2 linked regions of the Homo sapiens genome follow. The protein of the gene in region 2 purifies or fractionates together with the protein of the main gene of each other region. This does not show direct contact. Each region holds a gene or a part of one and is shown on either strand. Other genes may lie near its edges.

Region 1 (8,018 bases), on a different chromosome or scaffold from region 2:
AAGGACAACCTCAGTAACTGCTGGACTGTACAAGTCACTCACTGTCTTCAGGCACTCATTTACCTGGGGACCACTATGGCAAGACGGTTGAGAGCACGGGCTTTGGAGGTAAACAGACATGAGTTTGAATTTAATTCTATTCACTTAACAGTGGTACAACTTTAGGGCAAGTTTCTTACGATCTGTACCTCAGTTTCTCCATCTATAAAATGAAGATTCTAACAGCACCTTCCTCGTAAAATCATTTTACAATTAAATGACAATGCATGTAGTATGGTAGCTAAAATATGAGCTGCTGTTTTTACATTATTGTTGTTGTTACACACAGTAGTCCCCACCTTATCCGCGGTTTCACTTTCCACAGTTTCAGTTACCTATGGTCAACTGCAGTCTAAAAATAGGTGAGTACACTACTAAGACATTTTGATAGCAAGAGAGCCCACATTCACATAGCTTTTATTACAATATAGTGTTATAAGTATTCTATTTTGTTATTATTGTTGTTAATCTCTTACTGCACCTAATTTATAAATTAAACTGGATCGCAGGTAGGTACGTATAGGAAAATGCAGAGTATATGTAGGGTTGGTGCTATCCACAGTTTCACGTATTTACTGGAGGTCTTGGAATGTATACCCTGTGGAAAAGCAGGGACTACTTTATATAAGTGGATTTGGGCCAGACTTGAGGGCCAGGCAGGCAGCAGAGTTTAAAATTTACTGGGAGAGGTGGTAGGCACTGGTAAGTGTCAGGCAGTAGAATAATAAACAAAAGCGGTATTTCAGGAATATGAGCCAAGCAATGGCCTCTACAGGATAGACTGGGTGTGTGACACTGGCCTCAAGAACACCATTATGGTGTATTTGTGGCAGCTTTTTAATTTTTTAGCATTTTATATAGTGCTATTAATATAATTTGAAGACTTGCTTTAGAAAACAGTGACCAGGTATGCAAGGCATAACTGTTCATCGTAACAATTCTGAACCAGATTAGAATACTTACCGTTCAGAATACTTATTGTTCGGAAATGACAGAAAAGCTAAAAAGTTTCCACATTGCAGGGGAGGGGAGGAAAGAACCAACTAGAAAGCAGGAGGACCTGGGGTGTGAGGCTGGGGAGGTAAGCATAACTCGGCACATCCATTGCAACATTTTCTGCTGATGGGGCAGGCTCATTTATCCTAAGAGAATCACCTCATGAAAACAATGCAGAATGCACTCTGGGCCCAGACCCACAGCTAGAATGTCAGTGCTGATTATTCTCTCCCAGTCCATGTGTTTGTCAGCAACACAAACATTCACATGCTACTTTCGGGAAAATGCAGCCTCCGCAGGAGGGGCTAGAACAGATGCAGAGAGCTAATTTCTCTGTGTCTGGGTGGATGGTTTCATTTGCAATGTCAAAGACAAAAATGGGGATTCTACTAGCCTGCTGAACCTATGCATTGAAAGGAAGCTAAGAGAGCTTTCTTCTCTCACCCCTCCCTTAGATGACCCTTCTCTGGATCACAGTGTGGCTTCTTTACAGGTTGATTCATCTTATAGATTCATCTGTTGAGGGCACATCAGGTACCAGGCACTGTTCGAGGTGGGCTTGGGTTATGAACAGGGAACAAAACAAAGATTCCTGCCCTTGAAGAATTTTCTCCTTGAGGAATTGGGAAGGCAGACCATTGTGTTTTAGAAAGTGACACCTGTTATGGCAAAAAAAAAAAAAAAAAAAAAAAAAAAACCCAGCAGGGTACAGGAATGGGGAATTTCAGTTTCAACACCAAAGGACACTGGGGGAAAAAAGAGCCGGGCACGGTGGCTCACGCCTGTAATCCCAGCACTTTGGGAGGCCGAGGCGGGCAGATCACGAGGGAGGAGTTCAAGACCAGCCTGGCCAACATGGGGAAACTCCATCTCTACTAAAGAATACAAAAATTAGCCAGGTGTGGTGGTGCGTGCCTGTAATCCCAGCTACTCGGGAGGCTAAGGCAGGAGAATTGCTTGAACCCAGGAGGTGGAGGTTGCAGTGAGCCGAGATGGCACCACTGCACTCCAGCCTGGAGGACAGAGCAAGACTCCGTCTCATTAAAAAAAAAAAAAAAAAAAAAAAAAAAAAAAAAAAAAAAGGATAGAGAGTGAGAAAGGAAGGCAGGTAGACATTGAATCTCCTCACCATAGGGATGTTCACCTATGAATTCTGTCACTTCCACACTAGCAAAAAGTGATTAGGGAAACAAAACAATTGTGATGGGGTTTTGTTGTTGTTGTTTTTTTTTTTTTTTTGAGACAGGGTCTCACTCTGTTGCCCAGGCTGGAGTGCAGTGGTGCAAGCACAACTCACTGCAACCTCCACCTCCCAGGTTCAAGCAATTCTCCCACCTCAGCATCCTGAGTCGCTAGGACTACAGGCACATGCCACCATGCCCGGCTAGTTTTTGTATTTTTTGGTAGTGATGGGGTTTGGCCATGTTGTCCAGGCTGGTCTTGAACTCCTGAGCTCAAGTGATCCGCCCGCCTTGGCCTACCAAAGTGCCGGGATTACAGGTGTGAGCCACCGTACGTGGCCTGTGCTAGGTTTTCAGAGTCAAAAGAAAATAAATGACTATTTTCTCCATTCTATTTATTTTCTGAAAGATTAAAGCAAGTGTGGTCTAGATAAGGAAGGTGACAACCTGGGAGGACTGAACTGAAGCAAAGAGACCTCAAAAGTACTTCTCCCCTCCACACCCTTAAGCTAGTTTTTGGTCTGTTGGGCTTAGGGCTAGGATTGCTCCAAGTTCTGACAATGACTCTGGGCTGTTTGTGCACGGAGGCTCCCTCAGGCATAAACTGTTCCAAGAGAGGAGCAAGCTATCACCCCACTGCTACAAGTTAATTGTAAGTTTTCTATCGATTTTTCCCCAGAGAGCCAATCAAAGCAAAATGAACATGAGTTAATGATCTAGCCCTGAAAAAGGAGGGGTGATAGAAAATGATATAGTGCAATGTTAAGTGCCCTCTCCTCCTCAACATGCTCCCCCACCCCAATAAAAAACAGAGACAGAGAAATAACCAACGTTTTAGCAGGGGTTGGTGCTAAAAGGCAGGATTATAGATTCGCTTTTCTATATTTTACAGATGCTCTGTAATAAAGAGGTATAATTTCACAATTAGGAAAAAAAATGGCTAGTCTAAAAAGAAAGAAAAAGAAAGAGAGAGAAGAGCTGGCCATGAGAATTCACTGCCCAACACCCTAGCAGTTAGTGCTGCTAAACAGCTATCTATGGCTCTACTGACGAGCCACCTCAATATTTCTTGAGATATAATTTAGTAAGATTTATGCCTGAAGTAAAGACCGATCCACAGAGTAAGGAAACTATAATTTTACATATCTTATATTTACAATCATGCTGACAACAAAACTTATCATCCTGAGTATGGCTCTTTCTCTCATTTTTCACATCAGCTATTTAAATTCTGACTCGTAATGCCAGGAGGAAAAAGCTGACCTAATGGTGAAATAAACTTGTATTGGAATCTTGAGATGCTTTCCACAAATTATATATGTAGGGTTAATAAATATCTTCTGCTTGAAACAAAGTCAGCATAGGGTTAGGATTTTGGTATACAGCCTTCCTGATGCCATCTTATTTCCTCAAGGACAGATCCTGAAAAAGTACTTGGTAAGGCTTAATACCTATTTATGATGAAAACTCTCAGTAAACTAGGATTGAGGGTAATACCTTAAAACTTGATAAAGGTAACATACAAAACCTAAAACAAACATTATATGAAATAGGAAATCTTTAGACTCACTCTTTTTAAGACTGAGAACAAGACAAAGATGCCCGTTAGTGTAGCAGCTGTTTTGACACAGTTCTAGTAGTCCTGGCCAATGCTGTAAGGAAAGAAAAATGAATAAGAAGTATAAGAATGGGAAAGGGCTGGGCACGGTGGCTCAGGCCTGTAATCCCAGCACTTTGGGAGGCCAAGGCACGTGGATCACAAGGTCACATTGAGACCATCCTGGCTATCATGGTAAAACCCCATCTTTACCAAAAATACAAAAAAATTAGCCAGGCGTGGTGGCACACACCGGTAGCCCCAGCTACTCAGGAGGCTGAGGCAGGAGAATTGCTTGAACCTGGGAGGCGGAGGTTACAGTGAGCAGAGATCGAGCCACTGCACTCCAGCCTGGGCGACAGAGCGAGACTCCATTCCAAAAGAAAAACAAACAAACAAACAAAAAGAACTGATGAAGCATGTATTTAGAGATTAAAGGGACATGATGTCTACAATTAAAGGGGTCAGGGGAAAAAGCACACAAAGAAAACATACTCTTAGCACTCTTCTGTTAGCTTTAAATTATTTCCAAAATTATAAAAATGTCAGAAAAATGAGCTGAATAAACGGAAAGACACATTATATGCTCTTGGATGGAATGAGTTACTATTTCAGTGGCTCACACTTGTAATCCCAGCACACTTTGAGGTGGGAAGACCATTTGAGGCCAGGAGTTACTGGCCAGGGCCCAGCCAGGGCAACAGAGTGAGACCTCATCTCTATTAAAACAACAACAACAACAACAAAAAACTTATAAAAATATTTAGCTGGGTGTGGTGGCTGCAGTGAGCTATCATCGCACCACTGTACTCCAGCCTGGGCAACAGAGGGAGACCCTGTCTTAAAAAGAAAAATAAAAAATAAAAAAGCAACATGGCACATAAAAAATAAATAAATAAATAAAATAAGATGTTAACCCTCCTCAAATAATTTATAAACTCAATAAACTCCAATAAAAATTCCTCAAAAATATAATTTTTTGGCCAGGCACAGTGGCTCATGCCTGTAATCCAAGCACTTTGGGAGGCCAAGGCAGGAAGATTGCTGGAGCCCGGGAGTTCAAGACCGGCCTGGACAACAAAGGGCGTCCCTATCTCTAAAAAAATTACAAAAAAAAAAAAGAAAAATTAGCCAGGGATGGTGGCACATGCCTGTGGTCTCAGCTACTTGGGAGGCTAGAATGGGAGGATCACTTGAGCCTGGGAGGTTGAGGCTGCAGTGAGCCGTGATGGTGCCACTGCACTCCAGCCTGGGTAACAGAGTGACACAAGGTCTCAAAAGAAAAAATATATATATATAAATATATATGTATATATAATGTTTGGGTAGCCTGGTAAACTTATTCCAAATTTTATATGGAAAAAATAAATTTTGGTCCAGGAAGAGCTAAATAAACTTTAAGATGAATGGCTTGCTGTGCCAGTCATTAGGACATACTACAAAGTCACTGTAATAAAATTAGAGCAATTAAAAAAATGAAGTAAGAACTGACAGACTAATGGAACAAAATAAATGCTTAGGGCCAGACAAGTGTATCCATGGAAACCACAAATGAGAAAGAGATACCATAATTTCATAGAGGAAAGCATGGATTTTGTTGACATGTTATTAGAAAAACTGGGTCATTAAATGGAGAAAAATAGGGCTGGATTCCTATCTAACACATGAAAATGCGGGCCCTAGAGAGATGAAAGTCACAGACATGACCTAGGGTTCAGGAAGAGTTCCTTAAACAAAACTCCAAAAACATAAACCGCAAGTCAAAGAATTTATCTATTTGATTACATCAAAATTAAAAATATTTCTTGATCAAAGGATGGCAAAGACAAAACGAGAACTAAATGAGAAGATTTGATCAACAGATGTCAAGATGCCCAAATGAGAAGACATCTGCAAAGTCTAAACATAACAGGGAATAAATACCTATATTATAAAATCATTTCTGCAAGTCAACAGCAACAAAATAGATATCAACTCCAACAGAAAATGCCAAAGACATGAATAAGCAATTTACAGAGGAAGCTATCTGTATAAGAGATACTCAAAATCTCTAGTCATCAAAGAAATATAAATTAAAACGACAAGATATCACTTTGTGCTTACGAGATTGAAAACCATGGATAGCTGGAAAGAGGCGAGTGCTGGTGGGACATGAGGATACAGGAGTCCTCAAATATTAATACTTCCAGAGGCACAGAGACTGGGGCAGCCACTGTGGAGAGGCATCTGGCACTATTTAATCAAATTCAGTCTCTGCAAGCCTATAATCCAGCAATTCCACAGAAATATTATACAGCTTTGTAAGGAGACATGTAGGAAGATGTTCACTGCAGCAATATTTATGGTGTTAGGGGGTAGGAACAACTTGAGTAACCACTCACTACACAGAGAGCAGATAAAGCAAAACCAATGGATGCAAACAGCATGGGGTATAAATGCAGCATTCCAAAGCAGAGAATTAGACACATAACAATATGGATGGATCTTAAAAACACTACTCAGAGACCTGGCATGGTGGTTCATACCTGTAATCCCAGTACTTTGGGAGGCCAAGGCAGGCGGATCACCTGAGGTCAGGAGTTCGAGACCAGCCTGGCCAACATGGTGAAACCCCGTCTCTACTAAAATACAAAAAAATTAGCTGGGCGTGGTGGCGCATGACTGTAATTCCAGCTACTCAAGAGGCTGAGGCAGGAAATGGCTTGAACCCGGGAGGCGGAGGCTGCAGTGAGCCGAGATCTCGCCACTGTACTCCAGCCTGGGCAACAGAGTGAGACTCTTGTCTCAAAAGTCTCCAAAAAAAAAAAAAAAAAAAACCAAACTACATAAAGGAAAATGAATTACAGCATTATAAATCAAGATACATACACATAAAACAAACATTCCCACTTTGCAAGCTCCTACATAAACAAAAGGAAGCACATGCAATGCATTAAGAATGAACACCTGTGAGACATGAGATGAATGGGACAAGGGAATTCTACAACAAAACCAATCTTTTAGATTCCTTGCGTGTTATAAAAGAAAAACTCTTATGACCTACGATAAACACAGAATTGTTTCCTTCCCCAAAGTTCCCAATTTTCCAAACAACAAAAGCTACTCTGGTTGCCAGTTCTGTTGATGAGTAACAGCTTTTCATCCTTTTTCAATCAGGAAGGGAAAATTCAGGGATCAGCAAAGTACAAAAGGGATGAGCAGAGAATATTTACGAAACAGTGTTTTTGTTCTCATGACCTGACAATCTGACTGAAAAAGACCTGATTACCTCTTGATTTGGGATGATTCAGCTACAGGCAGGTTGGTGTCAAGTTTTCAGGTCATCTGAAGCGATTTACTTTCAGAACCTCTTCCCACGCAATCCTCTTGCCTCCCTGTAGAAATAATACCCTGCACTACTTGAAAACTTAAAATTCTTGAGCTAGAGAGGGCCCAGTTATTTTACAGATGAGGAAACGAAGACTCAGGGAAGAATTATGGTGTGAGTCACACAGCTCTAGCTTGAAAAGGTCTCCCTGACTCAGCCCTTGTCCTCTTCCTGTCTATTCTCAACCCAGCAGCCAGTTATCCTTTTAAAACATAAGTCATCATCAACTTCACTGTTCAAAGCTCTCCAACGGCTTCCCCCTCACTCAGTGTAAAGGCCAAAATCCTTACAATGACCTACACTGATGTGTCCTCCCCACTCCCACCCCCTCTCATCTGCTGCCACCTCCCCCCAACCCACATCCACACTGACTGGCCACCATGACCTTGCCACCCCTAACATGCCAAGCATGCTCCTGCACCAGGGTTTGGAACATGCTCATCCCACTGCCTCCTGCTCACTTCCTCATTTCCTTCCAGTCTCCCACCATGAGTTAGGCCAGGTGTGGTGGCCCATGCCTGTAATCCCAGCACTTTGGGAGGCCAAGGTGGGTGGATCGCTTGAGGCCAGGAGTTCCAGACCAGCCTGAGCGACATAGTGAAACCCCGCGTCTACTAAAAATACAAACATTGGCCCAGCGTGGTGATATAAGCCTGCAGTCCCAGCTTACTCGGGAGGCTGAGATGGGAGGATCACTTGAGCCCAGGAGGTTGAGGCTACAGTGAGCTGTGATCACGCCACTGCACTCCAGCCTGGGTGACAGAGCAAGACTCTGTCTCCAAAAAAAAAAAAGTTATCTCAGTAGAGGCTTTATTTGACCCCTCTATATAAAAAGTAA
Region 2 (8,018 bases):
ATGAGTGATCTGGTGAACGAATAATCATTTCTTCAAAATCATCTAGATTCATTTACATTAAACTCTGAGCTCACAGCTAGTAGTCTTCTAATTGAAATGATACAAAACTCATGGCTTAAGTCTCATACACTATCTTCTTTCATGAGTTCAACAGTTAGAGACCTAGTAGGCTTTATTCTTCATTCTGAGGAGATTCCTGTCACTTTCAAATAATTATGCCATTTGCCAAATGAAAAATGTTTACCTGAAAAAGTGGATGACCTACCTCCAAGGTATTAGATAGCTTCTCTCTTATATTTTCAGCAAATTTACTCAGAAAAATCCACTACTTTAATGTTGCTATGTCCTTTTTTTTTTTTTTTACTTCTACCATAGAGGAAAAATGACTATGTATATCAACTTGGCTTTTTAAGATTCAGCTCAGCAATCCAAAAATAATTTATAATTCCAATTAGAGATCTTAAAGATAGGTCTCCAGAGGTTTTACTTCTTACCGAAAAATATTGTCAAAGGTAATTCCTTCTTAGATTCAGATCTTCTTGTGGATTCAGATACAAATGTCTATGGACATTACCATGTTGTCATGGTAATTATGAGCTTTGTACCTCTCAAAATGACTACAATCTGGAGTTAGAAAATTTTGTATACCTCATATATGTTATGAGAAATGAACTATTGTTACCACATGTTATGGCAGATCATTCAAAGCTATCTGTTGTATTATCACAGTTTAAAAAATATCCTGATACCACACATACTAAGTACATGTATACATAGATATTTACAACCATACATATACATATATTTATATATATACACACAGTGCACATACAATCACACTCATGCTTGTGGCATTTTAACTAGTATTTTTAAAACCTACCTACCTACTCAAATGGACATAAAATACACATACTTACAGAAACATACTTACTAGGTATATGCCATATACACAGAGACACATGCATAGAAAATGTGTTTGTACACAGAAAACATCAACATTTATCACATACTGGTATTAGGTCCCATTTCATATTTGAGAATTATGGCTACAGTCTATACTAAAAAGTCACAAAATTAATCTATGTGACCACTTTTTAAGTCTAAGTCGAGAAGGCTTACAGTTACATCACAGGAACTGGTTTCATTAATATACTTTAGAATAAAGTGAGTTTGTATTGGAACAAATAGGAAATTTGCTAATAAACAGACCCTACTGCTCGTCTATGTTATAAAACACGGCTAAAAGCAATATTCAGACGAGTAACCTTGGTAGATGTTTTTTAGAAATGCAATATACTTTTTCTAAATCAATACTATTTCAATAAGCTGTCCATAATTGAGTAAATGGTTATTCCAATTAGTCAATATGCATGCAATATTTAGCATGTGACAATAAAACTATATTTACCTATCAAATAAACATTTACAGTTTATTTTCCCAAATCCTAAAAACACTGATTTTTTAAATTATGCTAGACATGATAGAGCTACATCTATTGTGTTTACAATATCAGAGCAATCAGTTAAGAGAAAATTACACAAAAGATTAGAAATGGTATGGGAAACAGAAAATCATTAAGCTACATTCCCATCTTAAGGCCTGGTGTGCATGCTGCACGTCAAACTATGCACATACTAGAGTTTCAGACTTCATTCAACATTGGCATCTCCTTTTAGCAGAATACAAACCCTTTGGGAAATGAGATTCATACTAATAATATGACATAGTACTGCAGCAAATTAAAAATATTCTCCAATGTCACTGCTGAAATTCTAGAGTAGGCTGGGTTCTATGAGAAATAACTTAGGAGTAAAGAACAAAAATGTACCCACAAAGGTAGACAATTGGGGCAGTGCAACTGTGGGACTATAATCTAAAAGCAAGTGCCAAAGATGACAAATGCCATTGTTTATTACTGCCTAAGATCAGTGGAAGGAAAATTGGAAAAAAATCTCCAATTTTTTTTGACATGGTTTGTGCTGATCTAAGAACACACCAGTGGTTATTCACAATATTTTCCTTTAACAGAAGGAAAATTTTGAAATACAGCAAAACACAAAACCACATTTAGCACAAAGCCAAACCCTGAAGTATATAATCCGTTAGCTGCCTATTTTAGAGAATTCAAAGGAAGAAGCAAAGGGAATCCTAAAAACAAGAAGTTTTATAAAAAGATCTCACTGAAGATTATTTGTTTTACTATGGATGTTTGCTTAACAGTTTTCCATTTAGCTGAGACACTATTTTAAAAATGCAGTATGTATCTTGCACATTGGTTCCATTCACAAAGAGTTAACTTTTTTTCCCCCAGTTTGGGGTTTGGGGTGAGATACGAGAGGATTTAGGATTGTGATGTTTTTATACAATCACTGGTAACCTTAAAAGTTGAAATGACCTTTATGTAAATCTTGTATTTTCTGATTTTTACCAATTATAAATGGGTTAGCATAAGCCTTTAGAATAAGTTCAATACAATGGCACTCAACATGGCAAGTTCTCTGTTTAATAATGGTTAAAAGTTTTTACTTTATACTTTATGAGTATCTGCTCTGGGTGTAAACTACACAGGAAATTAAAGTTAAGTTAACATACAAATCATGTTTGCTACTTTCAAAGGGAGACATTTCAGTTGGTGAAACCTGATTTACTTCTGTAGAATATGAAATAGTGTCATGGGACACCCCTACTCAGTGAATACTTGCTCTGCTGTCTGGGAACAGTTAGCACACAAAATTCCAGTTGGCTTCTGGCTGTTTCCTACATGTGAATCATCTGGTCCTTGGTAGTCCAAAACTTAGCCTCAAGACTTAACTATTAACCCCCAGGCTAAACTGTTCTGGTAAATTTTAGAAATCTTAAGAAATTGCAAATTTGCTTTAGATTTCAACGTTTCAATACCCTTTTCTGGAGTGACCTGGATAGGGACTTTGAAATACTGCAACTGTAAAAGTGTGAGCTCTGCTCTTATCCCATGCCATTTCTACTGACTTCATTTCAGGAACCATTCTTTAAATGTGATTATCCCATAGCCTCAAGATTTATTAAGAAAGCCTAGAATGGATATACAGTTACACTGAGCCTGTTTCAAGGGTAGGATAAATTCTTACAAAACAAGATTACAAATTAGCACGTAAAGAGTGAATTTTTTTTCCAACCAAAATAATAATAGTAAAACTGGAGTTAGTATCAAAGTGTAGTTAGCTATGCCAAATAGAAAAGTAAACATTCTCCATGTCAGCCTTCAATATAACCTACCATGAGGTGAATATAAGTAAAGAAAGAAATTATATTTTTCCCAACACTTCTAGAGATGTGATATTTTGCTTCTTCCTTGAACTCTGAAACTAATTAGCCAAATTTATTGACTGATTAACAAAAAAAGAAGCTTTTATTCACTGTTGCATATGCTTCTAGCATGAAGCAAAACACATTGGAATGAGGAGAAGCTCTTTAGAGCAAACAGTGCAGACTTTTCCTTTGCAAACTACCTCGTGCTTCTGGAAAAGTTTATTCTTAAGGAGTCCTAATTTTAAAAAATCACTTCCTAGCAGTCTTATGAAATAAAAAGGAAGAAAAGAGGAGCTAAATAGGCAATTATGGAGTAGGTAGTAGCATTAATGGTAGACAACAGAATTACTGTCATCCTAAACAGAATGTGGGAAAAGAAATATGTATGGCTTAGGTCTAAGCCCACTATCTCATATCTGAAGAATTACGTTTAATGAGCTACCTGGTAGATAGCCTAGAAAACTTGTCCAAAGCAATTTCAAATATATGCCATGGTAGGCAAATGATCCCCAAAGTATAGGGCTGCTATACAAACCTACCTTGGTCAGTACAACATATAAAGCCTCTAAAAGGTTAGCAGTTTCTGAGTCAAACCCCAAAGGTTTGACATACCATGAGCAATGAAGATGAGCGATGAATGCATTAGTAAAACTGGTTACTTGCCTACTGATGTCCACACATGCGACTACTCATGATTTACTGCAACGGTTATCAAATATGTTGCTTTCGCATAATTCATTAGTGATTAATTGCCATGCCAGACACTTCGTTTAGTCTAACAGGGAGGATTCTAGTGGGCGGATTATAGTGGGACGAGTTGGTGATGGGGGTGGTCTCCGGCTAGAAAGAGAAAAAGAGAAAGGTAAAGAAACAAGTAGAATATCTAGCAGAACATTGTTCCAAGGACACTGAGAAAGAGCCATTACACACATGCTCATGCACATACAGGCCAGCAGAAGTGGTTATGATCTGTAATGATTTTAACATTGTCACCTTTCATTTATCTAGTAGTTTTAATGAAAATTACGTCTTTTTTCATATGCAAATCTTTCTCAAAACTGAAGTCATTCCTTCCAATACTAATAAGAAATATGAAACTATTTGAAAGCCATCTGAAACGTACTGCACATATCTTAGCCAATAGAATATAATAATTACATAGAATGAACTCAGGAACTAATAAGGTATACTGTTTCAGACAATGATGGCTTTTGAATTTTTATTTCTCACATATAATTTTCCTTTTTCTTTCAGGATATTATTATCACTTCTCATTGCCTTTTTGACTTTCTCCAATTTGTTCTATATTATGCTTGTAATTTACAGAGCACTAAAAATCAGAAAAGCAAGTCTTTAGAGTTCTCTGTAGCAAGTGTAAATAGGCTCAGTGTTGAGTGCCTGTTTAAATTGCAGGAGCTCTAGTTCCTATTTTGGGTCTTAAAGACTTTAGTATTGGTATTAGTAGTATTACTCACTTTCTAGTTGGTAATGATGTTTCTGGTAGCTGAGTTTACTAAGCAAACGTACTTTAGATAATGAAATATTACTGTATTTGAGAGTCTCAACATTACCAAGTAATATTATTTATTACTTATTTATTCCTCAAGCTTCTACATTTATTTCCTAAATATATTAATAAGTTTTTTTAGTGTATTTGTGTACTTGACTTCATATATGGTATCTTGGGTAGTCATTTTTTTACCCCCCCAAATTTGACAAAGTCTACAAATTGAAATGTTTCTTTTTGATAAAACTCTGCAACTGATTTTTTCAGAAAGACTCCTTCTGGAATTATAGTCATAAATTTTTCTTCTGTATTAGAAACTCTATATTGATCAAATTGAATGTCCTTTCTCAGGTATGAAGAAGTGAAGTTAGAAAAATTTAAGAAAACTATTATGAAAAATAGTTTTGAAAAATAGTTTTGAAAAAAATAGTTGTTGAAAAATCATGGAACTATAAAATTAAATTACACGATCAAGGAAAAATCAAAGCAGGAGAGATATTGTTGATTAATGGTGAAAATATTAACTATTTAGGCACAAACTCATAGATATTAGTAGAATTCCTTTTACCTCATGCACTTGAAAAATGTGTAAGAGGCTTCAAAGGAAATCTTTCTTTGGGGAGGTACAAAGCACTGGAATTACAGGTGTGAGCCATGGTACCCAGCCTTATTTTCATTTAAAATGGCCATATATGTTTAACTTATGTCCTGAATCTTGAATCTGCATAATTTTCTTCTTTGATAGGAAGTTTCTGAAGGGCGCAGGTCACACCCACTTAACTTGTTTCATACAGTGTTTAGCATGGTGTTACATGCAATTACATTCTCAATGTCATTTTGGTCATCTTCTGAGACTACTAACTAATCATTTAAGACTTACTTCAGTGAAGCCTTCCCTGACCTGCCTTCCCCTCTCCTGATACAGTTGTTTGTATAGCATCTCAACAAATCTCTATTATTAGTCATCACACTGAACTCTAATTAGGCTTATATGTTATCTTCACTGATGAGAAATGAGCTGTCTCTTAATCATCTTCATGTAACTGTGGTATCTAGCTCACTGCTTGTCATTCAGTCACTGAATGTTTGATAACTGAATGAATGAAAGTTCCTCCTAGAATCAAGAAATAACTAATGAATGCTTGTGATATTCATTGGTCTTATAAATACAAGGATATTTGTGAGTAAATCATGGCCATGGCAAAAAAAAAAAAGTAGCTAAAGTGACATGTAGGATTGAGATCCTTGGTGACTCTAAAGTATCTAACTGCTCAGTTCTTTAGTAGATATTTGGAATAAATACCAAATAATAAGCCCCCTGCCCTCAGGGAGTTTGTCAAATAATCATGTAACCTATGGAAATGTATTCTTAGCAATTAACCAGTTGGCTGGTGGGAGGAGAGAACTGGCCAGAATTTGAGCTTTAAGGAGGGAAATTCTACCAGAAGTTTTGATAATGGAATTAATTAGGTGATTTCATTAAATAAAAAGTTGATTTTAGACTACAAATTCAGTGAGAAGTAGGATACAGCATGGCATGATGGATTGGAAATCGTTTCATGAATATGTGATAGCTTGGATCAAGGCTTGTAGCCAAGAGAGAAAGGAATGAAACTGACTTCTCTTGATCCTTTTGTTCTTGGCTTAACTGTTATTCCTCAGTCCTTCTGGACCATCCCATAGTTTTCCTGACTTCCTCTGCCTTCCCCTATGACTTCATGTTTGTGTCTCTCGTAGCACGTAACCCTACTTGTGATTATGTATTTATTTACTAGATTATTACCAGTGTCCCCCAAATAGATTCAAAATTCCTTGAGAAAAGAAACCACATATTTTGCATTTATTATGTGTATTCAGCATTTGGTACAATGTGATTAGAAAGCAGTGGTTAAGTATTTGTTGAATAATGGACAAATGAAGAAATGACTGAAAAGTGCCTAAACAAGATATTTAGCCAGGCTAGAGTTTAGGCTAGATCAAGGTGAGTAGGTCTAGCGAGGCCAAGGATGCTACACTTTTAAGGCATTTATCAGAAGCTTATATTTGAGATACTATGTTTACATAGAAAGAGTCCTGGATCAGAAGTTAGAAAATGTGGATTCTAGCTCCAGTTGCCAAATTGTACAATCAGACTAGATGATCTATGTCAAGACTTCCAGTTATATATTGCATAGATTATTTATTGAGCATCTAATATGTGGACTGCTTCATGCTACATGACTTTAAAGAGCTCAGCATCTATTCAGAATGGAAGATGAGTGGAATAAAACAAATATGAAAGTAGCTTTATTATAGTACTTCATTTTAAGTGGAAAAGTGGGGCAAAATTTTGTAATTCGGAGTCTGAGAATACACTCTGGGAAGTCTGAAAATACAATAATGTGGTCAAAGTGATGGCAAACATGATTGTAACTGCTGCATATAAAACTTGGAAGTAGGAATGTAGGTCTATAATGAGTGAAATTGGAACTTAAATGATGGCGATTGAAGGGAAAAATTCAATGGTGTGGATAGAGAATAGAAAGACTTAAGTACTCTTATGGCACAGTAAATTCTCATTAATATCTGCTTTAATCCTTGGACCATGTGGCTGGGACAAGAGCACAATAGTAGCAGGCAATTGCAGAAAGAAGTCAAGACAGGAGATGAGGAGAACATATGGTTCTGCTATGTGCCAGGTCTATTGTTAGTCTTATTCACTACCATATCCCATAACTTAGCATGGCCTGTGGTTCATAGTATTGTATTTTTTTCCAAATAAATCAGTCAATCAGGATAACTTATTCATTATGAGCTCTTTAAGGATGTCCCTAGGGACATGCATTTAATAGGCACTGCATAGCTAGATGGTGAATTAATAATTAAAATAATAAAAGATAAAATGTTCATGTTCTCTCAAAGTAACTATGATATCTTGGAAATATGCCTAGTTGCAGTTAAAGGAACCCAAATATGTACTTAGTCATTAAAAATCCTAAAGAGCTCCTCACTAAACCTTGCAGAAGAAATAAACATTTTATTTATTTTTTCTAAAACAGTAACAACAAAAATCTGTATATACAACTGTACTAGAAAGCAATTTAGGGTGAATTTTCTTAATATGCAATGCTAAAGATGTTTGCTAACTTCAACACCAGAAAACATTTAAAGTTTACTGTTAAAGTTCATTTCATTGGTCCAGTTCCTAACCATTCAAAGAGTTTCCAAAGGCATTCACCTCAC

Evidence for each region. Proteins that work in one complex are often made in the same cells at the same time.
Region 1: the proteins of DNM3 (region 2) and DNMBP purify together in Homo sapiens (affinity purification with mass spectrometry; 4 studies listed by BioGRID and IntAct, with this or other methods). This does not show direct contact.

The regions. Positions count from the first base shown.
Region 1 is NC_000010.11:99,999,156-100,007,173, forward strand, and holds part of DNMBP (dynamin-binding protein), read right to left. Parts: exon of another isoform or gene 7,082-8,018; intron 3,869-7,081; exon of another isoform or gene 3,787-3,868; intron 1-3,786. UniProt on the Homo sapiens protein: Plays a critical role as a guanine nucleotide exchange factor (GEF) for CDC42 in several intracellular processes associated with the actin and microtubule cytoskeleton.
Region 2 is NC_000001.11:172,403,883-172,411,900, reverse strand, and holds part of DNM3 (dynamin-3), read right to left. Parts: exon of another isoform or gene 4,130-8,018; coding exon 4,060-4,129; 3' UTR 1-4,059. UniProt on the Homo sapiens protein: Microtubule-associated force-producing protein involved in producing microtubule bundles and able to bind and hydrolyze GTP. Most probably involved in vesicular trafficking processes, in particular endocytosis.